3 linked regions of the Homo sapiens genome follow. The protein of the gene in region 2 interacts with the protein of the main gene of each other region in a biochemical or structural test. Each region holds a gene or a part of one and is shown on either strand. Other genes may lie near its edges.

Region 1 (7,035 bases), on a different chromosome or scaffold from region 2:
AGAAAGATTATTCACCAATACTCAGGTATTTACAGAGTTGTACAATGCAATATTGTAAAACATTATTTAGAAAGAAATAACATGGACGCTCCTCAAATGGTTAAATTATGGCATTTCCATGAAGGGGTACTATGCAGACATAAATAAGAAATTTAAAAGTTGCAGAATACCTATTATGTGTAAACACATGTTTACGTACGGAAAAGGGTCTGAGTGTTTGAGATACACCCTGGAGAGTATGTTTGGAGTGTGGGGGCAACCTTTTATTTTCTACTATATTCACTTATCATTTGAGATCTTTAATTTTGTAACTACTTCTATTCAGTTACTACTTTCACTGCTCTTTGGATAAAAAAGATCAATAAAAATTCGTATCTCACATAACATATTCAGTATGGCAGTTTTGAAGACTGTTTTGACACTTGTAAACAAACCATATAGGGAAGGAATCACAACTGTCTTTTTTTTTTTTTTTTTGAGACAGAGTCTTGCTCTTGTTGTCCAGGCTGGAGTGCAATGGTGCCATCTCGGCTCACTGCAACCCCTGCCTCCTGGGTTCAAGCAATTCTCCTGCCTCAGCCTCCCGAATACTTGGGATTACAGGCACCCGCCACCATGCCCAGCTAATTTTTTGTGTTTTTAGTAGAGACGGGGTTTCACCATGTTGGCCAGGCTGGTCTTGAACTCCTAACCTCAGGTGATCCTCCTGCCTCGGCCTCCGAAAGTGCTGGGATTACGGTGTGAACCGCCACACCCGGCCCCATTTTTTTTTTTTGAGACAGGGTCTTGCTCTGTTGTCCAGGCTGTAGTGCAGTGGTGTGGCCACGGCTATCTGAAGCCTCAACCCTCCCATGCTCATGTGATCCTCCCACAGCCTCCTCAATAGCTGGGACCACAGAGGCACACTACCACGCCCAGCTGATTTTTAAAAAGTTTTTTAATTCCCTATGTTGCCCAGGCTGGTCTCAAGTATCCTGGAGGATCCCAGGCTCAAGTGATCCTCCTGCCTCAGCCTCCCAAAATGCTGGGATTACAGGTATGAGCCATGGTGCCTGGCCACAACTATCAATTTACAGAAAAGGAAACTAAGTCTCAGAGAGGTTAAGTGAAACACCAGATGTCTGTAAAGTTACAGAGACATTAGATGGCTAGGCTGAAGATAAAACCTAAGTTTTTTTCATACGAAGTCTAAGGCTCTTTCTATATACCAAGGTATCCTTGCATCTCAGCAGCTTATTCTATGTCAGGTTATCAAAACCACAGTAAAACGTACTGCTATTTGAAAGTGTTCAAATGTTAACAGTCATATTCCCTAGATCTCTCTGCCCTCTAGAAAAAATGTCCTCCTCTACTATAACAACACTGCATATGAGGATGTAATGCTAAAAGGAAAACACACGAAAACCCTAATAACCAACACATTTAAGTGTTTCCCACAGTTATGGAATATTTAGTAATCTCCAAATGGCTCAACTTAGTGAACTGACACTGCTCTTTCTTTGTGGTCCTCAGAACTTCCGAGAAGTCACCACCAATCAAGAGCTGATTCAGAAGAGCAGAGGGACTCAGTGAAGTTCCAGAACTGGCCTGATAGCAGCCACTACATGATTAAGAAAAAAACAAGCAGCTTTGTTGTAAAAAAGATTGGCTTCATGGTTTTTATAATCATGAATTTCTCCTCCATGTTCCAATTGTCACCTGATTTTTAATCCAAGAATATCAAACTTGATGTACCCCTTTGTTTAACTGAAGGTTGCTTTCTCACTTGGTATCCCTTTCTTTCAAAATTTAACTTTCAGGAAATAAAGGTAACCAGTTTGCTATGAATGTTAACACATAGCCTTCTGGACACAATTAGAACCTGAAGTATTACGGTCTCAATGTGCAAACCAGATGAACCCGGCTAAAATAATCAAAGTTGACCACGAACATGGTATTTTCTGTATCTCTCAAGTGACTTAATATTAATCCAGCTCCAAAAGTATTGTTTATGATCAACCAGATCACATTTTGAATCCATCCTACGCTTTTTTTTTTTTTTTTGAGACGGAGTCTCGCTTTGTCATACAGGCTGGAGTGCAGTGGCGCGATCTCAGTTCACTGCAACCTCCGCCTCCCAGGTTCAAGCAATTTCTCCTGCCTCAGCCTCCCAAGTGGCTGGGACTACAGGCGCGTGCCACCACGCCAGGCTAATTTTTTTTTTTTTTTTAGTTTCACAGTGTTAGCCAGGATGGTCTTGATCTCCTGACCTCGTGATTAGCCTCCCAAAGTGCTGGGATTACAGACGTGAGCCAACGCGCCCGGCCTGCTTTTTCTTTTTTCTTTTTTTGCAGTGGTGCAATCGTGGCTCACTGCAGCTTTGACCTTTTGGGCTCAAGCAATTCTCCCACTGTAGCCTCTTGAGTAGCTGGGACTATAGGCATGCACCACCATGCCCAGCTAATTTTAAAATTTTTTGTAGAGGCAGGGGTCTTGCTACACTGCCCAGATTGGTCTTCAACTCCTGGCCTCAAGTGGTCCACCCGTCTCAGCCTTCCAAAGTGCTGGGATTAGATGTGAGCCACTGCACTTGGCCTTATTCCACAGCTTTCAAAGAATACGGTTACAGAGAGGTTGGGTCTCATAGCACTTTTATTGCTGCAGCTCATATGCAAAGGTTTTTTTTTTTTTTTAGAGGGAGTCTCACTCTTGTCCAGGCTGGAGTGCAGTGGCGCCATCTTGGCTCACTATAACCTCTGCCTCCCAGGTTCAAGTGATTCTCCTGCCTCAGCCTCCTGAGTAACTGGGATTACAGGCATGTGCCACCAAGCCTGGCTAATTTTTGTATTTTTAGTAGAGATGGGGTTTCACCATGTTGGCCAGGCTGGTCTCAAACTCCTGACCCCAAATGATCCACCCACCTCGGCCTCCCAAAATGCTGCGATTACAGGCATGAGCCACTGTGCCCAGCCTCATATGCAAAGATCTATGGGAGATTTTAATAAGCGAACACGAGTAAGACATGAGGTAAACCACTTACAGTGCGTGGGCTTATTTTAGACTTTTTCATATCATTTAATTCAAAAATAGTGTCTGGGATTAATATGATGCTAGCTACAGATCCTTACCCTCATGGGGCTTAATCTAGTACCATCAGCTAATATCCAATTATTAACCTGTCCTTCCACTGGGAGGATAAAAACAGAACTGGTGGTCAGTACAATAAGGTCAAGTTCAACAAAAGAACATTAACAATCTGAATAAGGTATCCCTTTCCTCTTTGTTCTATATACGTATCTTCTACCAAAACAGCAGAATGTGGAATTAATCTGCCCTTTAGTCCGATTTGGCTTAAATCAACTTTGTAGATCACAGTTTCTCAACTCTCACCCCTTGACTCCTTTGACAAACAAGTTTCTTCTTTAACGTTATTTGAAATTTCCAAACAAATTAAATATCATGACTAAAAAATATTAAAAGCACTTTTAAATCTTAGAATGTCTTTTCAAATCACAAGTCTCCCCCTCCTCTGATTGCCACCCACTCCCAGGCCCTCTGGTTAAGAAATTACTGTTGGGTGTGGTGGCTCACGCCTGTAATCCCAGCACTTTGGGAGGCCGAGGCGGGTGGATCACGAGGTCAGGAGATCGAGACCATCCTGGCTAACATGGTGAAACCCCGTCTCTACTAAAAATACAAAAAAATTAGCCGGGCATGGTGGCGGGCACCTGTGGTCCTAGCTACTCGGGAGGCTGAGGCAGGAGAATGGCGTGAACCCGGGAGGCGGAGCTTGCAGTGAGCTGAGATCGTGCCACTGCACTCCAGCCTGGGCTACAAAGCGAGACTCCGTCCCCCACAAAAAAAAGAAAAAAAAAAAAAGGAAAAAAAAAAGAAATTACTGTTGGATAAGTCTTTTTTTTTGAGACAGAAATTTTGCTCTTGTTGCCTAGGCTGGAGTGCAATGGTGGAATCTCGGCTCACCGAAACCTCCGCCTCCCGGGTTCAAGCGATTCTCCTGCCTCAGCCTCCCAAGTAGCGAGGATTACCGGCATGCACCACCACACCTGGCTAATTTTGTATTTTTAATAGAGATGGGGTTTCTCCATGTTGGTCAGGCTGGTCTCCAACTCCCAACCCCAGGTGATCTGCCCGCCTCTGTATCCCAAAGTGCTGGGATTACAGGCCTGAGCTACTGCGCCCCACCTGTTAGATGAGTCTTAAAAAAACAGGCTAAAATTCCTTACAAGATCTTCAACTTATTTAACTGTAGCAGCAGCACTGACTCAGTCAAAATATAAGCAGCAGGTTTAAAGGAATTAGCCCTTGGAAAGCAAAATCAATAAACCTAAAGTAGGTGCCCGTGTTTGTTCCACTCCGTTTCATTCCAGTTAACTGAGAAAAGATGTTATCTAAATCCTCCATGCCCTTTGCTCCCTCAATACCTAGGCCCATTACATGTTTAGATTTCAACAGTGTTCCCTCTGCTTTATAAGTAAAGCACTGTTTAATGCTCCAGGTTTATCAATCCTTTGCAATTCAACAATGAACTGGTCCAATTCTTTAATTTTCTCTAAATCTTATGTGAACTGGTTAAAAAGTTAACAAATCAATCACCTCACAAAACAAAACCTGTCCCAATTATTTATACATGGTCTACAGTGGGGAAAACACACCTCCAGCTCTTTATATACCCATACAGGTTTAATAAAAGATCTTAAAAACGGAAATATTGCTAAGTCCAGAAGCCGTTAAACAAGAGACAACACATTCATGGTTTTCTTAATAAACAGGATTTGTTATAATAGATACTAAAATAAATACAGCCTACTTCTTAACTCAGAGTTTCTCTATCTCAGCACTGCTGATATTTTAGCTTAGGTAATTTGTCATGGGGGGATTTTAGCAGTTATCTCTGATTCTGCTCATTAGATGCCAATAGTAATCCCCGATCCCCATTCCACTCTGACAACCAAAAGCGTCTCTGGACACTGCCAAATGCTCTGGGGTGGGATGAGGGTTTGGGATGAAAAGACTGTCCCTTAGCTGAGAACCATGTTCTAAGTGATGTTTCACTTCAATAAATAAAAAGATAAATGAAAAGGAATTGTTAGTCCTATATAAAGGACTTTTCTTTGGGGGTGATAAAAAGGTTCTGAAATTAGATAATAATGATGGTTGAACATCTCTGAATATACTAAACCCCACCAAATCATACAGGGTCTTGCTCTGTCACCCAGGCTGGAGTACAGTAGTGAGATAATGGCTCACTGCAGCCTTGACCTCCAGGGCTTAAGCAATCCTCCCACTGCAGCCTCCCAAGTAGCTGGGACCACAGGTACATGCCACCACCCCTGGCTAATTTTTAAAATTTTTTTTGTAGAGACGTGGTCTCACTATGTTACTTAGGCTGGTCTTGAATTCCTGGGCTTAAGTGATCCTCTTGCCTTGGCATCCCAAAGTGCTGGGATTACAGGAGTGAGCCACTGCACACGGTCCAAACTGTATACTTTAAAAGTGTAAATTTTATGGTATACAAATTACATTGAATAAAGCTGTTACTAAAAGTGAGTTCTGCCACATTCTCCATAATTAAAAGCTACTTTAGGCCAGGTGTGGTGGCTCATGCCTGTAATCCCAGTACTCCGGGAGGCCAAGGTGGGAAGATCACCTGAGGTCGGGAGCTCGAGACCAGCCTGGCCAACATGGTGAAACTCCATCTCTAGAACCGCTTGAACCCAGGAGGTGGAGATTGCAGTGAGCTGAGACCACGCCACTGCACTCCAGCCTGAGCCATAGTGAGACTCTGTCTCAAAACAAAAACAAAAACAAACAAAACAAAAGCTACTTTAAATAATGAATAACAAATGTTTCCCTAAACCAACAACATTGCATAAACACAATCGATCCACCCAGAGTGCCTAGAATTAGACTAATTATATTGGTGTTTACAGCCCAGCCATGAAAAGACATTTCATGCAATGTAATACAATATTTCACCTTCACCTTTACTGCACTATATAGATGCTCCCTGACTTATGATGAGACTGTCAGGATAAACCCTTCTCAAGTAAAAAAATGCATTTACTATCCGGATAAACCCATTGTAAAGTCAAAAAGATCCCAGTGCAAGCCACCTTTTGATTTAGTTGGGGATTGGGTAAGTTTAGCATAGTAAAGACTGAGTCAAAACTCATAAGCTCCACCATCTTGACCCCCGTACGGGTTCAGTTACATGACCTCTCTGTGCCCAATTACTTCATTTTGACAGAAGATGCCATACTACCTTTTCCTTATCCCTCCAGGGATACTCAATTTGATCATATACATAATCAAACAAAATAAGTGCCCAATGCATGCCATGCTAACCATTACACAAAATGGGAGACAGGAGGTACACAAATTCAAGTTAAACTTCTTGATTTGGTACTTTCCCACTATCAGGACCATAGCAGTATCTACTACAAATTTAAGAAACTGGCTCATAAATGTACATAAGGCAAACCTAATTACAAATAATTACTTAAAATACTGTACTCAAGTTCAGTTATTTCCTCTACCATCACGAAAAGAGAATTCCAGAATGTTTTGAGATGAAATATACCTCTTTTTTCAATGACATTACTTAGAAACACTGCTTTATCTTAATTGACACTATTCTGTATTTGTATTTAAACTTTCATAAAGAGTTTTAATTTTGGCCTTCTGGGTATCTTACTCACAGAATAACATATACATGATAGAGGATGGAACTTGACACTAGGGAATCTGTAAGCAATATATAATGGCACCCCTTAAAACCATTTCACTGTGAGAGTCAGCAGTGTATGAAAACAACCACTGCAGAGCATCTTCTCCCTATAAAAATAATCAAATAAGATGTCACACAGGACTGCATTTTGAAGCATTATGGAAATGAAAGGCCTGTGCATGAGCTTACATATGTTATTTCCAATTTTAAAGTTTGTTTTTGTTTTTTTTTTTTGAGACGGAGTCTCGCTCTGTCGCCCAGGCCGGAGGGCAGTGGTGCAATCTCAATTCACTGCAACCTCTGCCTCC
Region 2 (7,035 bases):
GATGAAGCTATTCATTAAGGGGGGAGAAAAGTAACACAGACTATTATTTCTAGGAAGAAAAGCTAATAGCTCCAACATACCTGCCACAATTCCATGCTGATAGCACTGTCCAGCTGAACAAGTCTGGTTTCCAAATGCATGGACTGGCTCTCTGGATTATTAAGATTGATTGCCGTACTTTGGTTATGGTGGCGCTGAATCTGCGATAAGTGCATTCTCAAATTGTCACACAGTTTACGGAATTCAGCCTTACGCGTGTATTGGAGGCAGAATTTGAAAGCTATAAGCATAATTGTAAAATATATTAGGTACCTTCCACTATCTACTTAAATATTTGAATAGGTTTTATTTCACACATTAAGATCAGTTGTTTTAACAGGATTCACCAAACTCATCATTAGTCTTTGTGATGCAATGAGAATCAACTTATTTCATCCAGACTACCTTTTTGAGTGAGCCCTAACAAAACCAAAGACATAATCACTGGTCCTTGCTTACAACTAAAATGTGGTGCTGGCAGAGTTTACAAATGGGAAACTAGAATTTAGATCTAGGGGTCACCTTTCAAAGACCCACCACTTTAAATCCTAGGAGTAAAAAAATCTAGTATGAAATATAATGAACTTTGATATCTAACTTACATAGTAAGAAACAAGGTTCTGTACTAATTAAAACTACATAATACAAATTGAGGGCTTATAGTAACCTAATTTCAACTGATTACAGATGAACTACTTGTTCTGTCATTTAACTGGACACGTTAATTTTTTTACCGTCACATATGCACTATTAGATTATTTTTTAGATTTCCTTTCCCCTTAAAAATAGTTATGTCTATTTTAACAGGCCTAAAACAGAGATGCAGTTTAACTTCAAGTTAATATTTGTATCAACAGCTATCAAAAAGTCCAAATTTACTTGTATGAAAGTGAAAATTCAGCTGGGCGCGATGGCTCACGCCTGTAATCCCAGCACTTTGGGAGGCCGAGGTGGGTGGATCACAAGGTCAGGAGATTGAGACCATCCTGGCTAACACGGTGAAACCCCATCTCTACTAAAAATACAAAAAATTAGCCGAGCATGGCAGCGTGCGCCTGTAGTCCCAGCTGTTGGGAAGACTGAGGGAGAAGAATGGCGTGAACCTGGGAGGCGGAGCTTGTAGTGAGCCGAGATTGCGCCACTGCACTCCAGCCTGGGCCACAGAGCAAGACTCTGTCTCAAAAAAAAAAAAAAAAAAAAAAGAAAGAAAAAAAGAAAGAAAGTGAAAATTCAGGCTGGGCAGAGCTGTAATCCCAGCACTTTGGGAGGCTGAAGCAAGAGGATCACTTGAGTCCAGAAGTCTGAGACCAGCCTGAGCAACAATGCAAGATCCCAGCTCTTTTTTAAAAACTAAAAATAAATTAAAAAAAAAAAAAAAAGTAGAGAACTCAAGTTCACTAAAAAAAAAAAAAATGGAAAAGTTTATTTTTTCAGTTATACAGAGAATTCCAAAATAACTTTAAAATGTCTTTCATTATTACTGATGTTTGTGTAAAAAGAAAAAAAAAGATCTTTCAGATATCAATAAAATACAATTCACACAAAACTCCTTTAAAGAGTAAAACAAATTCCTTACTCAGTCATTTTGGTTTTGTTTTGTTTTGTTTTGTTTTGTTTTGTTTTGTTTTGAGACAGAGTCTTGCTGTTACCAAGGCTGGAGTGCAACAGTGCCATCCTGGCTCACTGCAACCTCCGCCTCCTGGGTTCAAGCGATCCTGCCACCTCAGCCTCCTAAACAGTTGGGATTACAGGCATACACCACCACGCCCGGCTAAATTTTTTGTATTTTTAGTAGAGAAGGGGCTTCACCATGTTGGCCAGGCCGCTCTTGAACTCCTGACCTCAAGTGATCCACCCACCTTGACCTCCCAAAGTGCTGGGATTACAGGTGTGAGCCACCACATCCGGCCGCAGTCATTTAATACTCATGTGAATGCCAACATTTCAATAAGGATAAAAACTAGTTCATTTTAAGTACTTTTCAGAAAATTTACTCCTCAGTCAATTTCAAAGCACTTCACTCAGATTTGATCTTCTCATCTTACCTTGCTGGGCAATATCATGGTACAGGCGCTCTACTCTAGAATTGTTTCTAAGAAGGTCCAAACACTGCCTGTAAGACTCCCACAGGAATTTAACCCATGGAGTTAAAAGTAATCTGTCAGTACGATCCTGAGTGTCTTCACCACTTACAGCACTTAGGAGAACACTACAAAGAAAAAAATGTTGAAAACAATTTTAGACAGTTTCCTACTTTGCCATGTGATTAAAAACCAAAACAATGTTCATCAGAAAACAGTGCAAATTCTTCCCACAATATGTACACACTGCAAAGGTGTCACTATCTACTCCCTGAATTCCCAATCTGCATTATGTTCATTTAAATTGGTATTTGCCCCTCTATCTTAAGGCTGTCATTTTCCACTTCTATGAATTTTTATTACCTACATAAATTAACTGGTTACTATGCATTTAAAACTTCAAAGATTTGCATTTTTTTCTGATAAACATCTACTTCAAAAGGAAATGAAGACCCATGTAAAAGAAAACACCAAGTTAACTATCAAAGCATTTATTAGAGGTCTAACCCACATACCTCTCAGGAGTTTGAATATTATCTAGATCCTCTATATCTAAGACCATCTGCTGAGATTCTTCTTTAGCAGCTTCAGTTTTTTCCTCTGCCATTTTCAAATATGCCCTAACAACATCCTCCAGAGATTTTATGTTCACCTAATCCAAAAAAACAAAAACTCTTCAGAACTTATTTTTCCATTGAACCATAAGATGTTTTAAAGGCAAATTTTTAAGAGAAATACAATATATTCACTTCGAAAGGTAAGTTCTTCGGCAGATTACTAAAAACACTTGTTAAAAATATACAACCCAGTTCCGTTTGTACCTGTTGACAAATGTTCTTATACTGGTATAACCCCTCCTTTGCCAAGTGGCTCTTGCGAAGATCCACGCAAAGTTCCAAGTATTTCAACATAATTGGTTCGTGTATCTTTTGCCATGTTCTATGTTTTTTACTTTTCATAACATCATAAAGAACATCCAGAGCAGGCTGCTTTTTGCCAACCTCAAGAAATTCTGAAAAATTCAGAAGAATTAAAATTAGTTATGTACACTATACAAGAGTCTAAACTTTACCTTTTTAAACAGCTATTTCAATTCCCCAACTCATTACCAACTTTTTACCAAGTTACATTTATTTTTGACTTCTAAAGCTATGCCATAATTATCAAAAGTAAAACAACAGAAAGACCTGTACTGTGTTGAAATATGATCTACAAGTAAAACTGAATCACTGTATTCCACTGTGATTTAAAAGTTCCAGGCCGGGCGCAGTGGCTCATGCCTGTAATCCTAGCAATTTGAGAGGCCGAGGTGGGCCAATCACTTGAGGTCTAGAGCTGGAGACCAGCCTGGCCAATACGGTGAAACCCATCCCTACCAAAAATACAAAAATTAGCCAGGCGTGGTGGTATGTGCCTGTAGTGCCAGCTACTGAGGAGGCTGAGGCAGGAGAATCACTTGAACCCAGGAGGCGGAGGTTGCAGTGAGCCGAGATCGCACCATTGCACTCCAGCCTGGGTGACAAGAGCGAAATTCCGTGTCTCAAAAAAAAAAAATAAAATAAATAATGTGTCGGTATTGGTTCATTAGTTGTTACCAATAAAAATCAACATGGGAGAAAGTGGGTGTGGTGTCAATGAAACTATGCACTCTCTTTGCAACACTCTGGAAATCTCAAACTGCTCTAAAAAATTCTTTTTTTTTTTAAATAAAAAAATAGAAAAATGGGGCCGGGAGCGGTGGCTTATGCCTGTAATCCCAACACTTTGGGAGGACGAGGAGGGCAGATCACTTGAGGTTGGGAGTTCAAGACCAGCCTAACCAAAATGGAGAAACCAAGTCTCTACTAAAAATACAAAATTAGCAGGGCGTAGTGGTGCATGCCTGCGGAGGCTGAGGCAGGGGAATTACATGAACCTGGGAGGCAGAGGTTGCGGTCAGCTGAGATGGCGCCACTGCACTCCGGCCCGGGCAACAAGAACGAAACTCCAACTCAAAAAAAAAAAAAAAAAAAAAAAGGGAAAAAAATGGAATACAAAGCAAAATAACTTATTTTTTTTCTTTTTTTTTTTTTTTGACATGGAATCTCGCTGTGTCGCCCAGGCTGGAGTACACTGGCGTCATCTCAGCTCACCGCAACCGATTCTCCTGCCTCAGCCTCCTGAGTAGCTGGGATTACAGGCACCCACCACAGGGCCCGGCTAATTTTTGTATGTTTAGTACAGACAGGGTATCACCATCTTGGCCAGGCTGGTCTCGAACTCCTGACCTCATGATCCACCCGCCTTGGCCTCCCAAAGTGCTGGGATTACAGGCATGGGTCACCATGCCCAGACAACTTATATTCTTTTGAATTTATTATCCCCTGAGCCCGAAGGCATTCTATGTGGTAACATTTCAAAACCCAGTTCCAATTTTAAGTTTTATGCATATTGTTTGTTTTGAAATACAGTCAAAAGCAATACCTTTGCCATTACATTATTTCTGACCAAGGTTAAAATTTATCTTAAATTTCCTCATCTTTTATTTTCTTTTGTACACTTAATAGACTGGGGGAGAAAGAGGTTATTTAACCTAAGTCAACTGGTTAAATTCATCTTAACATTCATTAATTGCAAATTTCACACACACACAAACTTCCCAATGAACATTTAAAAAATAATTTGGGGGAACTAAAACACTACACTAAAAAAAAAAAGGGGGGGAGCTTAAAACACTATATATATACATATATATATATATATCTCCTTTTTAAAAATATCATTGTTTATTTTCCTTGGAAAAAGACTTTTTTTTTTTTTTTTTTTTTGGACAGAGTCTTGCTCTGTCACTCAGGCTGGAGTGCAGTGGTGCAATCTCAGCTCACTGCAAGCTCCGCCTCCCGGGTTCACGTCATTCTCCTGCCTCAGCCTCCTGAGTCGCTGGGACTACGGAGCTCGCCACCACGCCTGGCTAATTTTTTTTTTTTTTTTTTTTGTATTTTTAGTAGAGGCGGGGTTTCACCGTGTTAGCCAGGATGGTCTCAATCTCCTGACCTCGTGATCTGCCCACCTCGGCCTCCCAAAGTGCTGGGGATACAGGCGTGAGCCACCGCACCCAGCCAATACTTTTTCTTTTAAGAGCTATCTGATAATGGCCGGGCGCAGTAGCTCACGCCATAATCACAGCACTTTGGGAGGCGGGTGGATCACGAGGTCAGGAGATCGAGACCATCCTGGCTAACACGGTGAAACCTCGTCTCTACTAAAAATACAAAAAATTAGCTGGGCCATGGTGATGCACGCCCGTAATCCTAGCTACTTGGGAGGCTGAGGCAAGACAATTACTTGAATTCAGGAGGCGGAGGTTGCGGTGAGCCGAGATAGCGCCACTGTACTCCAGCCTGGGCAACAAGTCTCCAAAAAAAAAAAAAAAAAGTTTGCTACAGGATAAATCACAAAACATACTGAAATAAATCTTTGTACAATACCTTATATGAAATCACATTTTTCACATGCAAATAATGACAAAACCCTTCACCACTGCATGAAAAAGTCCATCTTTCGCTGACTCCATCTTACTATCAAAAAAAAAACTTACTAAATGAAACAAAGATGTAATATATAACTAGATATTTTGTTGAAATAAGCCTTTCCTTGTTGTCAGGGGTGGGGGTGGGAGGGAAAAAACTTGCAGTCTTCTCCTGGTCTTCTCCTATATAGTGCATGTAAGGTTATTTTCTAAAATGTAACAGTACAGCCAGGCGCCTTGGCTCACACCTATAATCCTAGCCCTCTGGGAGGCCAAGGCATCACTTGCGGTCAGGAGTTCCAGATCAGCCTGGGCAACATGGTGAAACCTTGTCTCCACTAAAAACACAAAAATTAGCCAGGCATGGTGGTGCATGCCTGTAATCCCAAATACTCGGGAGGCTGAGACTTTAGAATCACTTGAACCCAGGAGGCGGAGGTTGCAGTGAGCCAAGATTGCGTCACTGCACTCCAGCCTGGGCAATAGAGGGAGAGACTCTGTCTCAAAAAAAAAAAAAAAAGAAAATGTAACAGTACATTAGGCGTTCTTCATAACTAACAAAAACAGTCTCTTATCAGCAAAAAACTTGGGAGTAAATGCGTTTAATGGAATTTATACTTTAAGAAAATCACAGCAGCAGCACTAAAATGACCTATTGTATCCAACTCCTAATCTAAAAAGGGCTTGCTTAAAGATGGAACTGAAACCATTTTTCACTTCCTGAACAGCCAATTAGAAGTTGATTCCTTAGCCAGGCGCGGTGGCTCACGCCTGTAATCCCAGCACTTTGGGAGGCTAAGGCGAGCAGATCACTTGAGGCCAAGGGTTCAAGATCAGCCTGGGAAATATGGTGAAAAAAATTAAAAAATTAGCTGGGCATGGTGGGACACACCTGTAATCCCAGCTACTTGGGAGGCTGAGGCAGGAGAATCGCTTGAGCCTGGGAGGCGGAGGTTGCAGTGGGCCGAGATAGTGCCACTGCACTCCAGCCTGGCCAACAGAGAGAGATTCTGTCTCAAATAAATAAATAAATAGTTGGAATGGGAACAGATTTTTCATAATCCATGACAGTGAGTCTTCTGCCTTTGTCCTAATTTATATACAAGAATTTAGTTCCTCCGAATTTTTTTTTTTTTTTGGAGAAGGAGTCTCGCTCTGTCACCCACGCTGGAGTGCAGTGGCGCAATCTCAGCTCACTGCAAGCTCCACCTCCTGGGTTCATGCCATTCTCCTGCCTCAGCTTCCTGAGTAGCTGGGACTACAGGTGCCCGCCACCACACCAGGCTAATATTTTTGTATTTTTACTAGAGACGGTTTCACTGTGTTAGTGAGGATGGTCTTGATCTCCTGACCTTGTGATCCACCCGCTTCGGCCTCCCAAAGTGCTGGGATTACAGGCATGAGCCA
Region 3 (4,274 bases), on a different chromosome or scaffold from region 2:
TACATAATAAAACCTAACAAAAAATGGAACAGTACTTACCCTTATTGAGTACAATGTACTTGTCAATGTTTAAAATGCTCATCATGACCCACTAATGAACATGCTATGACTCACAATTGAAAAGGACTCTTCATTTCCACTCAGTTAATGCTATAATTGGTGAACATAATACAGATGGCTGCTTTAATAATTTACTTGAACCTGGTTCTTAGCTCTAGTTATATGCAAGACAGTCCATAAATCTGTTTCCAGTTACTGGCAGTAAGTTTTTCTATTGATATTGCTGAAAAACTTAATAACTGTTAAGCTTTATTATATTAAAGGTGTGCCAATATTTTCCTTTGTGTGGAAAAATATTATATAGCTTTAGAACTAAATGTATACTTGGAGATTTAACCATTTTTGTTTTTGTTTTGTTTTAGTCAAATATTGGAGATAATGTCAGCAGTGAGAGATGAGGATCCACTGGAATTAGCCAATACACTATATAACAATACTATTAAAGTATTTTTTCCTGGAATATAATTGGTATATGTCTTCCACTTTCCATCATGTATGTAAAATTTCATAGTAAAACTTCCTGATAGTTTCAATAAAGAAATTATCTGCAAGTTGTCTAAAGAAATACTATATATCGGTACACACCATTCCCCACCATTCCCCTTCTTTTTCTCGTAAAATCAGATCAGGATGTTTTTATATCATTGAGTATCTTAGTTTAAAACAATTTAAAAAAAACTATTTTTGTTTTGTAATATCTTCAAAAGAATGAAAGGACAATTTTATGACAATACTGCAGACACAGAATGGCTAACAAATATACAATTTTACATAAAAAACATTTAGCACATTCTGGTTTATATCAAAGTTTAGTTGATACAGTTTATTTGTCAACCCTCAGTCTCTCTCTGAATCAGGACTTTCAAACTCAGCTCAATTACACTGCTACTCAAGTTTCAAAAAAGGTCCTCAGTTGCTTCTGGCAGCTAATTTTTTCTTTAGTTTTAAAATACTCTCTCATGTCCTTTATCCTCTGGTCAAATTATTTTATTTCCTTGACTTTAATGTGGTTTCCTGATTTGCATTTTCATTCTCCCACCCATTTCTAAAGAAAAACTGAGGTCCAAAGTTACATTATATAATTTCATTGAAGAATATTTGGCACAGGTGACGCACCATATGATCATTACATCTATTAAAAAGCTATTTGTTCAAATTTTGTCATAAAAATGTGAAAACATTTTATTCTATGTACAATAATGTACACAAATTTAAACAGGTCACCAAAGAGACCAGAAGTAATTAAAGAGGTATATTTACAGTAGCACATCACAGTAAACGGAAAACCATTCACAGATTCAACATTGATACTGTTTTTGTGCTTGGTTACACACTGAAGGTGAAGGATATTACTCCATTTTGGATGAACTGAATTTTAAACAAATACCTCAATCATTAATAAATGCTATTTTCATCAGTCAGTATCATCATTAAATTCTTCAGCTGCTGCGCCTGTGTGCTGAATCACTCCATTTCTTTCTCTTTGAACATCATCATCACAATCTGTACTGTCATCTTCGTTCAATTCCCTGTCAGATTCAGCAGCAGCTTCTCTTACAGCTTCCTCTGGAGTTTCATTGGGTGGAATAAATCCATTGTTGTTAGATACATTTGAATTATCCTTGATATCATCTTCGATGTATACTTTCTGATGGCACATTGGACAAGTATCTTGAATGTACAGCCATTTCCGAAGGCAAAGTGCATGGAAATAATGATTACACGGTGTAATACGAGCAGATGTTGTAAACTCATGATAGCAGATTGCACATACATCATTTATTTCTTGTAAGCGGCTCCCTTTTATTTCAGGAAGTGAATTAATTTTCTTCACAGCAGTCCTACGATTCATAAATGTCTTCCAGCCATTTTTGGCTTGTAAGTAGATGTTAAAATATGCATGTAGGCACATCATAAAAGCCCGAATTTTACTTCCCGACTCAAACATCATAGTGTAAGCCCCATTTCCAAACATTACAACTCCAAATATAAATTCAATAATACTGCCTGTTGAACGAACGTAGTAGACATAATCGTCAAGCTTTTCCCAGAGGACATTATAGTAGCCATCAATCATGAATAACGTATAAACAGTGAGAGAAACAATTACTTTTAAGCACAGTTCCACACAAAATGCTGTAACTGCAAACAACCATGTATTTAGTGCATAGTGATGCCAAAGAACATAACTGAGTAAGACAGGAAGAATAAACAGGCAAGCAGAGACAAACAGCACAGGAAAATGTCTACGAAAAGATGACACATGAGAGGCACTGAGAGACATTAATACAGGGTCTGTCATTCCATGGATAAAATGCAGGACTGCAGTTAATAAAAGGCACATGTTTCTACTTAAGCGAATAAGTCTCTCTTCTGGTCTTAGCCCACTTAACCCAGTCTGAAGAGCCAAAATAAAAAATAAAACAGGTGCAACAAAGCCAAGACGCCTGTCATCTTCCTCAGTTGATCCAATAAAGGCCAATATTCCAAGCCCCAAATAATGGGCTACTGAGGAAATTACAGCACTCATGCCCAGTACAGTTAGTGTAGAATCGCACCCACTAATTATAAGATTGCAAATGAGGTCCCAAAAATCATCCCAAGAAATAAAGAAGGAATCAGTTTCATTTGCCATCCTTAAGATGTACATTAACACTGTAGCCTGAGCTGTAACTCTTGTTAGCCAAAAGACTCGTAGTATGTCTGGGAAACGAATCCTCTTCCATGTGTCCTCCATCAATAACTGTAATCCGTAAATTCGATACATGTGCCTCACCAAAAGATAAACATATCGTGTGGAATAATAAAACCACTTCAGTTTCACTGCCAGGACAAACACTGTATTTAATGTGAGAATCAAGGAAGAAGTAAACAGTAAAGTCTCTCTGATGTGTAATGGTAGCTCTGTGATTAAGCCTATTACAGGAACCAAGAGATCCAAAATAATTAATTGTGAATAGATGGAATGAATCTGGAGTAGTGTAACGTATCCAATTCCAAATGTTAGCTGTAGAACGATAAGTGCCATCCACAGCGAGGGACCTTTTCGAGGAAGCAGCTCAATTCCAAAAGCTGACGTGTTGTAGGCACCATAGAAGTCAATGTGCAAAGAAGCATAATAATTCACCAACACTGAAGTTGCAGCTAACAGAAAGGCTGAGCTGTACGTGTAAAACTTGAAAAGTGATCGTTGTGACAAGATCAGAACAATACTGGATGCAAATACACCTAAAAGAAAGAAAGAAAAAGTCATTTGAATGAAGTATTTGTAAGAATGTTTCCCCACTAAGAGTTATGATATTCTTCCTTTAATTAGGAAATATGAATATTTTCAGTTATGAACATTAAGCCTCAAGACAACTAAGGCTTAAAGGGTAATAAAGGTTTTGTAAAGTCAGAGTTCAGGAGAACAGACCAAACATACTAAATTATTCTTTAAAATTTCATTCCTTACTTTCTAATTTCCAAAGTATTTCAAGTAACACTGTAGCTGTCCAAGGCACCAAATTACTAAATTATTTTCAAGATGAATTTGTAGTGGTACATACATTTTAACAAGTTTTAAAACTCAAAAGAATATGTCTTTTATCATTTCATAATCATTAAAATTAATTTTAAAAATTGGGTTAAAAATAACCCAAATGGAAAACATTTATTCCTATTAAGTTTTAGATTCATTTATTATTGACTGACTGAGACAAGAGTCTCACTCTGTTGCCCAGGATGGAGTGCACTGGTGCAATCTCAGCTCACTGCAAATTCTGCCTCCCAGGCTCAAGCAATTCTCCTGCCCCAGCCTCCCAAGTAACTGGGATTACAGGCACCTGCCACCATGCCCAGCTAATTTTTGTATTTTTAGTAGAGACGGGGTTTCACCATGTTGGCCAGACTGGTCTCTAACTCCTGACGTCAAGTGATCCGCCCGCCTTGCCTCCCAAAGTGCTGGGATTACAGGCGTGAGCCACCGCACCCAGCCAAGTTTTAGATTTTTTTTTAAAGGATTCTTTAGGAAATCAAGTTCAAGTTTTATACTTCCACTTAATTCCTCCTTTTCTTCAAACTGTGAACTCATGCCAGCTCTTATTTCCTACTCCTTAACTCTGAGCATTCTCCAAAGGGTCCAAAATTCCATTTTTTTTCCTCCTAGTTTCCTTCGGACTTAGAAACATCTTCCAAGTTCCCTTTTTCCTGTATAATGCTGAATCTGTTTCTTA

Evidence for each region. Proteins that work in one complex are often made in the same cells at the same time.
Region 1: the proteins of EIF3A (region 2) and EIF4B form a complex in vitro, tested with the Homo sapiens proteins (one study listed by BioGRID and IntAct).
Region 3: the proteins of EIF3A (region 2) and RNF139 form a complex in vitro, tested with the Homo sapiens proteins (one study listed by BioGRID).

What each region holds. Positions count from the first base shown.
Region 1 is NC_000012.12:53,009,421-53,016,455, reverse strand, and holds part of EIF4B (eukaryotic translation initiation factor 4B), read right to left. Parts: intron 1-7,035. UniProt on the Homo sapiens protein: Required for the binding of mRNA to ribosomes. Functions in close association with EIF4-F and EIF4-A. Binds near the 5'-terminal cap of mRNA in presence of EIF-4F and ATP.
Region 2 is NC_000010.11:119,070,806-119,077,840, forward strand, and holds part of EIF3A (eukaryotic translation initiation factor 3 subunit A), read right to left. Parts: intron 3,133-7,035; coding exon 2,942-3,132; intron 2,773-2,941; coding exon 2,636-2,772; intron 2,249-2,635; coding exon 2,085-2,248; intron 281-2,084; coding exon 81-280; intron 1-80. UniProt on the Homo sapiens protein: RNA-binding component of the eukaryotic translation initiation factor 3 (eIF-3) complex, which is required for several steps in the initiation of protein synthesis.
Region 3 is NC_000008.11:124,484,845-124,489,118, reverse strand, and holds the end of RNF139 (E3 ubiquitin-protein ligase RNF139), read right to left. Parts: intron 3,289-4,274; coding exon 1,475-3,288; 3' UTR 526-1,474; downstream 1-525. Other genes in the region: deoxyribonuclease TATDN1, read left to right, coding at 423-525. UniProt on the Homo sapiens protein: E3-ubiquitin ligase; acts as a negative regulator of cell proliferation through mechanisms involving G2/M arrest and cell death.